2 linked regions of the Homo sapiens genome follow. Changing the gene in region 2 together with the main gene of any one other region gives a genetic interaction. Each region holds a gene or a part of one and is shown on either strand. Other genes may lie near its edges. The genes, in order: TRPC6 and SLC35C1.

Region 1 (4,256 bases), about 56 Mb from region 2:
ATCTTTTCAAATTACAGGTTGGGCACAATAAACAACCAAGTATAAGGAGCTCAGAAGATTTCCATCTAAATAGTTTCAATAATCCTCCAAGACAATATCAGGTAAGCATGGATTTTTAAAGGAATAAAACTAGTTACTTGTAATATTTAGGTTCTTGAACTATGTGATTCTTTAAAGTATCAGGATATTTTTCTCAATATCAAATAATGCATTAATTCAATAAATATTTATTAATTACCATGTACCAGGCATTTTGTAAGTGACAGAGATATATAAGTTAAAAAAAATAAAGTATTGGAATCACAGATCTGAAAGTCTCCATTAAAAAAGAGAGTGTTCATTGAAAAGGCAAACCTTACAAAAAACATAAAGACGACAGTAAAATTCATGTCAGATTCCACCAGTGAGAAACAAAGTCTGCTTGCTTTTGGTGAAAATTCTGCCAGATGATTATATGCCTATATGTGCATAATTTTACATATATTTTAATATTATTATAAAATGCATATATAATACTATATAAATCAGCTAATACTTATATAATGAGTAATAGTTTTTAGCTTGTGATTTTCTCTCCACAAAATATATATTCCTATTAATTTCAGTGAATGTATCATATTCCTTCATACAAATATATAATTTACTAAAAATAATTCCTTACTGATGAACATTTAAAGTTTCATTTTTGTCTATTATATAACTAGTTCTATGAACATACTTGTTAATGTACTAAATCATATCTTTAGAATAGATTCTTGAAGGTAGAGTTTTACTATCTACCATTTAACCTTGGCTTAGGTGTAAAATTTTATTTAGTTCTATATCCATCAAGACTTTCTGAGCACCCACTAAGACTCCTTCTTTTTATGAAAAATATATAATAAAAGCAATGTTTGCATGATAGAAGCCCAGGTACTTGAAAAATATATTACATTGAAACTAGCATTCCTAAATTAATAGAAAGTTTAAAATAAAAATTGGTTCCATTTTTTGGTGGGTCAGACGTGGGGCTTAAATGAGCAGACATTAGCTTAATTTCCCATTTCCACGAGCAGTAGTGTACATCTTTTACCTACCCCACTGAAAGACTGTCTTACTCTAATACTTTTCAAATAAAATACAAGCAATGGACATAAAGGATTTCATACTTGCTCTAAACATTCTTTTCTAAGAACTCACTTTTGAGTCATTAGCCTAGGTGATGTGAAAACTGCTTTAAAAAGGAAAGCAAAATGTAGAGATCGCCTGCATCCTGGCTGAATCATCTTAGTCCTTGACAGCCATCACTTCCAAAGGGCTCACTACAGGGAGGAAGACTCTGAAACTTGTTCCAAATGAGAGATTTGTCATGAACCTGAAACTGACATAGATTTCTCCTTTCTCTGTTTTCTAGAAAATAATGAAAAGGCTCATTAAAAGATATGTACTGCAGGCCCAGATAGATAAGGAGAGTGATGAAGTGAACGAAGGTGAGTTGAACGCAGAAGCAAATCAGCCCCTGAATGTGAGTCAGGACGGGGGCCTAGCGCAGAGTGCCTGGAGAGCTGCAGAGATGCGTACAGGGAGAGTGAACTTCAAGGGGAAAAGTAGAACAGGATCTCACCAACCGCCGTTCTGTTAAAGAGTGGGGAACAGGCTATGTCTCCACAGGCGGGGACAGGTGCCACTTGCTAGATAAAAAGCTCTCATTCTTATGGTGGACTTGGAGGGAGGAGGAAGTGGGTGGGAAAGGCAAGGAAGGGGCTGCTGCCTCAACCCCTGAATCATTCACCACCTTTTTGTTTTAACTTACTTTAGGAGGGCTTTTGTTATCATTCTGCTATAATCTCTTCATTCACAAAAACACTTAGCTAAGAAAACAAAAACCTGCTCAATTAGGAAGTTATTTCCTTTCAAAGGATTCAAAATAAAATTGTGTGTGAAATTAGAGCTGATTTCCTCCTGTCCCACAGTCACTAGTTTTTCCGCATTGCGTATTTATAGTTGACTTCTTATCACTCTTGCTTTCAAAGGGGAACTGAAGGAAATTAAGCAGGACATCTCAAGTCTCCGCTATGAACTCCTTGAAGAAAAATCTCAGAATACAGAAGACCTAGCAGAACTTATTAGAGAACTTGGAGAGAAATTATCCATGGAACCAAATCAAGAGGAAACCAATAGATAATGCGAAGACTTCCTTAGAAATTCATATTTATTTGTCCACTTGAAGCCATATTATTTTCTGATTTATTTTCTTAAGTGCCAATGGGCCCACCTTTTAAACAAGAAAACGTTAAATAACTTGGGCCATCCTATCATCTGGAGCCCTAGTATCTAATTTTTTTGGTGATTAAACTCCATTGTTCAGGGTAAAGGCTGTAGATAATGAGGAAAATTATGCCCAGTTGTTTGGTGCTTGTTTTATAAACTGCTTTCTTGGATATAACTAACTCTTGTGATGATGTCATTGCCATGTAGTGTCTGCCTGAAAATGGGTCCCAGCGGACAGGGGCTGACCCACGTTACTCCCCATGCGGTTTTTCCTCTGAAGTTTATTTCAGGTTCCTTCTTGCCTGCTCTGTGGATCCCCTGCTGGGGACTCCCAGCTCTGAAATTTGGGAAAAAGTAGCCCATGGGCCTTTAGAATGCTTTAATCCTTTCTTTAGAATGCTGTTTAAACACCATTTACCCTACTTATCCCTCAATGCACATGATTGATACCGTTCATACAAAATGGTCTTACATCTATGTAAAATTTTCTGATTCATCTATTTGAAAACATTACACTTAACAATGAAAAAAGTTTTTCCTCCACTGAACCCTGGAAACATGGTCCAGTTTTGTGTGTGTGCGTGTGTGTAAATGTGTACACACAGACATAAAGTACTTGCCCTAGTTTGTGGCTAATGTGGACACACAAAAGCTCTTTATGTTATAAATTTTTATTGTCACTAAAAAATTTTACTGTCTAAATAAGTACCTTTTATTGGAGAAAAATCAAAACCCCAAACAAACACTGTGGTTGTTTGGTTCCATTATAGCACAATTTTGTGCCATTTCTGGGAGCATTTACAGATGAATCCCCACACTTAGCCATTGAATGTAAAGGGGAAAAATAAGGTGAGAATTTGTAAATACTTATCTGTTATTTTCAATATGTTCTATCCTTCTACCCAAATATATAAAACAGGAATTTGCATTCATGTGCATTTACCAAGAGGTTGTTGTTGTTACTTACTGATCATGTGAAGTGGTGTCTTAAACAACTAAAAGCGATGAAGGTTCATATGTTTACTCAAAGACCATTGGCATTCAGAGGATGCTGGACATTAACTGGAACTGCTACTTCCAATTCAATAATGGGAGATTTCAAATGCAAATCTTTAACTTCATCTTAAAGATGAAATGGTTGCAGAAAATCTGTTTAGCTCCAACTTTGGCTTAATTTAAATCAAAGAACATTTATGTAACCAGATCAGAAAATACAGCTGAAAATTTATATTCAGTGATTTTGTATTTGTGGATACTACTTATGGAAAAGTTACTTGGTGATACATAAAGATCGATTTTCAAATATTTTGTGACAGTATTTGAATCAGCAGTTGTAAAAAATCAACCTCATACTGAATGCACTATCAGCAAATTAAAATAATCTAACATCCACAAAAAAGTGTGTGTTGTGCCATGCGAGAGATGGACCTTCATCCCAAGGATGCTCTATGACAGCACATGGTCTTGACTCCAGAAGACTCAAGAAAAGATATTCAGATTCCTCAGTGTCTTTTAAGTTGGATTGACTTGACAAGATATAAGTTTTGGGAAACTCAACAGGCATGACTGTGGGTTCCTCAGCAAAAGGCACTACCCTCCTGGTGGCTCTTATGGTTCAAACTAATGTCCTGAAGTCAGATTTTCATCAAAGTGCAACTGAATTGACATCTCTTCGAATTTCATCTTCCAACTTAGAATAATTGGCATTTCTTCTAAGTTGGAAGATGAAAAAGGAAATTAAACGCATTTTAAGAAAGCTTTTAAAATTCTGATAAGAGCTTCATTACAGGCACATCGCCAAAAGATGGTCATAAGCATGGGAAAAGTCTCAAGACCACTGGCTTTAAATCCTACCTTCACGTCGCAGTCGGCTTCATCTTTGAAACTAAGATGATAAGTTGAAACGTTTTTATCCCAGTTGCTCTCCTGTCCTATTTCTCCCCTCTGAGTGGATGCTTTCTGGAGGTTCATGCACCCGTGAGTAGGATGAAGCAGCGCTGCTTTTC
Region 2 (4,302 bases):
AGGAGGGGAGGCCTAGAATAGTTGCCTGAGACTCGTCTTCCCCTACAAGGAGGAAGAAAGAGGAAACATTGCAGATAGGGAGCCAGGTCCTGGGCTGGCAGAGAGCGTCCACCTCCCTGGCCCCTGTCCCAGTCAGGCACGCCCGTGAATGCACCATTCTCAGAACCTCACCACTGGTTACTTGGATTACCTTTGGGATTTGGGCCCAGTTACCCTAGTGTCTTCACCTTCCTGCAAGCAAATTCTCCAACTAGGAGCCTCTACCCCTGAGGCCACTCCTGGCAGGGTCAGCAGGAATGAAGTAGAGAGCCCTGGGGCATCTGAGGAGGACAGGGAGGAGGGGAGGTACACCTGTTCCCTGGAGAGGGAAATGGAAGCAGGCTGGGAGAGTTCTGGCAGGGGGGGTCTTGCAGCTTCCCCTACTCTAACTGTGACCTTCTCCCTTCTCCCCTCTTGGACTTAGACCCAGCAGCCCTAGATCCAGCAGCTGCTCAACAAGGGGAAACATTTTCTAGGACAGGTGGCATGGGATGGGTCCCTTCCCCCACCAACCGGTGCATCTAGCCTGGGACCCTGAGCCATCAGCAAAGAATATGATATGTAGGCCAAATAAGATAAACTTTATAGCACCAGGAAAAACCAGCATAGGTTCAAATGAAGACCCCATTCCTAGATGACGCAGCCCTGGGAAGACTCGGAGGGAATGGGATGCTGGAGGCTCTCTAACGCAGCATGGGGCCCAGTAAAATATGGGCCCATCTAACCTGTGCTGTCCCATACCATAGCCCTCAGCCACATTTGGCTACTGAGCCCTTGAAATGTGGCTAGAAAATCAGGTTGTAACATCTGCAAATGAGGAAGTGAATGTTTAACATTTTGCTTAATTTTAACTAATTTAAATAAGTGGCCAATGGCTACTGCATTGAATACTGCAGTTCTAACCTCCAAGACGAGCAGAGGGGATAGAAGCACAGGCCTGGGAGTCTGGCCAATCTGGGTTTGCATCCCAGCCTGGCTGCTTGCTAGCTGTGTGGCCGTGGGCAAGTAATGTAACATCTCTGAGCCTCAGTTTCCTTGTTTGTATAGAGATGACCGCTGGTAGTGATGCCACAACCCAGGGGATCTCTGGGAGAACAAAGGAGATGCTATATGTGAAATAATTAGCATAATTTCCCCATCAATAATTATTATTTTCTGAGGGTCAAGTCCAGGAAGACAGCTGAGGCCTCTCAAAGCATATTGCTTGCTACTGTCTCAGGCGCTATCCTGAGCTGGCAGAGAGTGATGGTATATTTATTAAAAGACGTATTGTCCTCTACTAAGAGCACTGGCTGGGAAATCAGGACACCTGAGCTCTTGAGAAACAATAAAGTACAGTGGTCGGGCATGTGAACTGTGAAGCCAGATTGCTTGAGTTCAGATCCCAGCTCTGCCACTTATTAGCTGGGTGATCTTGGACAAGTTAGTTAACTTCTCTGTGCCTTGGTTTTTCCCTCTGTAAAATGTGGATTATAATCCCATCTTGTTATGAAGATTAGCTGAGTTAATATGGCTAAGATCCATGTGCCTGGCACATTTTAATCACTCAACAAATGTCAGTTGCTTTTGCTGCTGTTGTTACTATTATTATTACTATTGTTCTTGCCCCGGCTGGGCTCCTAACTTGCTGGGTGACCTTTAGTAAGTTACTTGCTCTCTCTGTGCCCCCAGGCTCTTTCTCCTATGACTGCTGCACCAAAGGAGCTGGGACAGATGAAGTCCTAGGATGCCTAGAAGAGTTGTTCTTCACTGCTTCAGTCCCCATGACCACTCTATCCCCCGTGGCCCCAGCTGCCACTCACCGATGATGATACCGCAGGTGAGCAGGGCATAGAAGGAGGTGGTCTGCTTGAGCAGCAGGTAGGAGAGCAGCACGTTGAAGACGGTGGTGAGTGAGCGGCCCACATTGTAGAAGGCCACACCGACGTACTTGAGGCAGAGGTTATTGAAGGTGATCATGCCGATGAAGACCACCGACAGGGGCAGGACGCTGCGGGCCACCCTGAGGTCCAGGCGCAAGCTGGGGAAGTCCACGGCACCAGGGCAGCAGGCGGCCAGAGCGCTGAGGCCTTTGCACAGCAGCGTGGTCACCAGGCACTGGTAGAAGGTGACGAAGATGGGGGTGTCCAGCCGCAGGGAGGGGCTGTCCAGCAGGTACTTATTAAGGAACACCATGGAGATGGAGGTGACCCAGTAGAGGGAGACCACCAGCGCGATCTGCAATGCCCGCAGCAGAAAGGGCTTCTCCCCGTTGGCCTCTGCCTCTGCAGAGGGGTCTGAGGCCCCGGTCAGCGCCATGTGCAGGATCCTGGACCGCTTCAGAGGGGCCCTATTCATGGTAGCAGAGGAGCTGGGTCACCCCGCGGCCAGAACTCTGATTCCCTGGAGTCCAGGGCAGTGAGCTCACTTGTGCTCTCCGCAAGGAAGCCGCAGCCCTCCATTGTCACATGTGGGCTGGCCTAAAGGCCTCCCCATTGTCCTCATGGATTGAGAAGTTCTGCTTTGGGGTGAGCCCAGTTGTGCTGCTCCACAACCTACTCCCACCCCGAGGGGGCTCTGAGACAAGACACAGGGCAAGGGAGAGGAATAGGATAAGGCGGTGAGGCCAGGACAGAGAAGACCTGTGAGGGGAGAAGAGGCTGGGGCCTAACAGGGAGGGGTCGCAGAGAGAAGGGAGGGGAGAGGAATGGCAGGGCGGGGCAGGAGTAGGTACGCGGGGCGAAGGTGCAGGAAAAGGACGCGTGGCAGAGTGGGAAGAGGTGCCGAGAGGGCGTCATGGGCGGCTGTGGGAGGGAGGGGCGGGCAGGGGGAGGGAGGCGTACAGGGAGCTGCCGGAGGCCGGGCGCGGCTGGAGGGAGGGCTGCGGAAGGGTCAGAGGGGCTCGGGGCTTGGGGCTGAAGGACGCGGGAGGGGGCTGGGCCGGCGCCCACGTCTCGCTGCCTTCCCGGGCTCTGTCGCCGGCTCAGCCCAGGAGCCTCCGGACATCCGAGGCCGACTCCCCGGGAGGCGGGCCCTGGACTCACTTCCTGACACGCCCCCACGTGGCCTTAAAGGGCCCGCACGCCCCGCCTTGCCCTTAAAGCGACAGCCCCAGAGAGGCGGAGTTCGCCAGTCCCCAGCCCCGCCCCTGCGCTCCGCTGCCCGCTGCTGGCGGGGGACCTCGGCAGCCACAGGTTTTTCTGGGTGCTTGAGCCTCGCCCTGCTTCCTGGAAGGGCTCCATCAACCTCGCCTGCCCACCCTCAGCTCCGTCCGCCCCGGAGCCTCCGTCCCCCGACTTGGCTAGGCTTGGCTCGCAGGTCCACTTCCCGGAACCCCGACCCAGGACCCGGGCGGCGCTACATCAGCCTGGACCCCTCCACCTCCGGAGACTCGCGTTGCAGCCCCGCGTCCCTCTGCCAATCCGAGCTCACTCTTCCATAACAATGTTGTGGTCCCCTCCTTTCCCCCCATTTTCACCGCCCCCAGGCCCTCTCCCAAGCCCGAGACCCCCGGCAGCGCTCCCCGAGGCCGGAGGCCACGCCGCCTCTCTCGGACTTCAGTTTGTCCTCCCTGTGCTCCTGTCGAGGTCCTCTGGGCGGCCCGGATCCGAGATTCCAAAGGCTCAAGACAGCATCTCTTACCCCTTCCAGAAAATACTGTTTCCCCGGCCGGTCCAGCCGCATCAGCTCCCGCGTCCCTGCCTGTGTCCCCGGGCCGCGAAGGCGACCTGGCGCTCACCTCCTCCGGTGCACTGGGCGCCCGCCCCGCGACCCCGTGCTGCATCTGCAGCGCCGCACCCTGGGCCGCGCCCGCGGGATCGACTTCCTGCTTTCCGCCCCGGGCCCGGGCACCTTGCCAGCCTCGCCGGCCTGTTCGCGGCATGGGCCCCGGGGGTGCCGGCGGAGAGGCGGTGATCCGGACGGTCGTGGGAGGAGGCCCTCTCCTCTTTCCAAGGCTACTCCTGTCCCTGGTACCCCCGCCCGCCCGGGACCCGGCTTCAGTTACCGCAGCTGGCACGTCCCGGGACTTGGCTGTATCCCTGGCCCGCCGCGCTACCGGCTTGCACTTCCAGAAGTGCGTGCGGGGACCGCTCGGATTCTTCCAGCTGGCAGTGAGGGGGAGGGTTCCCCGCCCCTTCCAGGGCCGGGGCCTGGGAAGTCTAGCCTGTGGTCTGCCACTCACCAGGCAGCCGGGGAGACCAGGAGGATCGACTTCTCTTGGTTCGCGCTCTAGCACCTGCGTTGGGCAGGCCACTTTCTCCGACGGCCTGAGTTATCTTCATG

The links.
Region 1: changes in SLC35C1 (region 2) and TRPC6 together harm fitness less than expected from each alone (positive genetic interaction), as found in Homo sapiens cells (one large-scale study listed by BioGRID).

What each region holds. Positions count from the first base shown.
Region 1 is NC_000011.10:101,450,863-101,455,118, reverse strand, and holds the end of TRPC6 (short transient receptor potential channel 6), read left to right. Parts: intron 1-13; coding exon of another isoform or gene 14-17; coding exon 18-101; intron 102-1,393; coding exon 1,394-1,469; intron 1,470-2,012; coding exon 2,013-2,164; 3' UTR 2,165-3,555; downstream 3,556-4,256. UniProt on the Homo sapiens protein: Forms a receptor-activated non-selective calcium permeant cation channel. Probably is operated by a phosphatidylinositol second messenger system activated by receptor tyrosine kinases or G-protein coupled receptors.
Region 2 is NC_000011.10:45,803,876-45,808,177, reverse strand, and holds the start of SLC35C1 (GDP-fucose transporter 1), read right to left. Parts: upstream 3,030-4,302; 5' UTR 2,377-3,029; coding exon 1,842-2,376; intron 43-1,841; coding exon of another isoform or gene 1-42. UniProt on the Homo sapiens protein: Antiporter specific for GDP-l-fucose and depending on the concomitant reverse transport of GMP. Involved in GDP-fucose import from the cytoplasm into the Golgi lumen.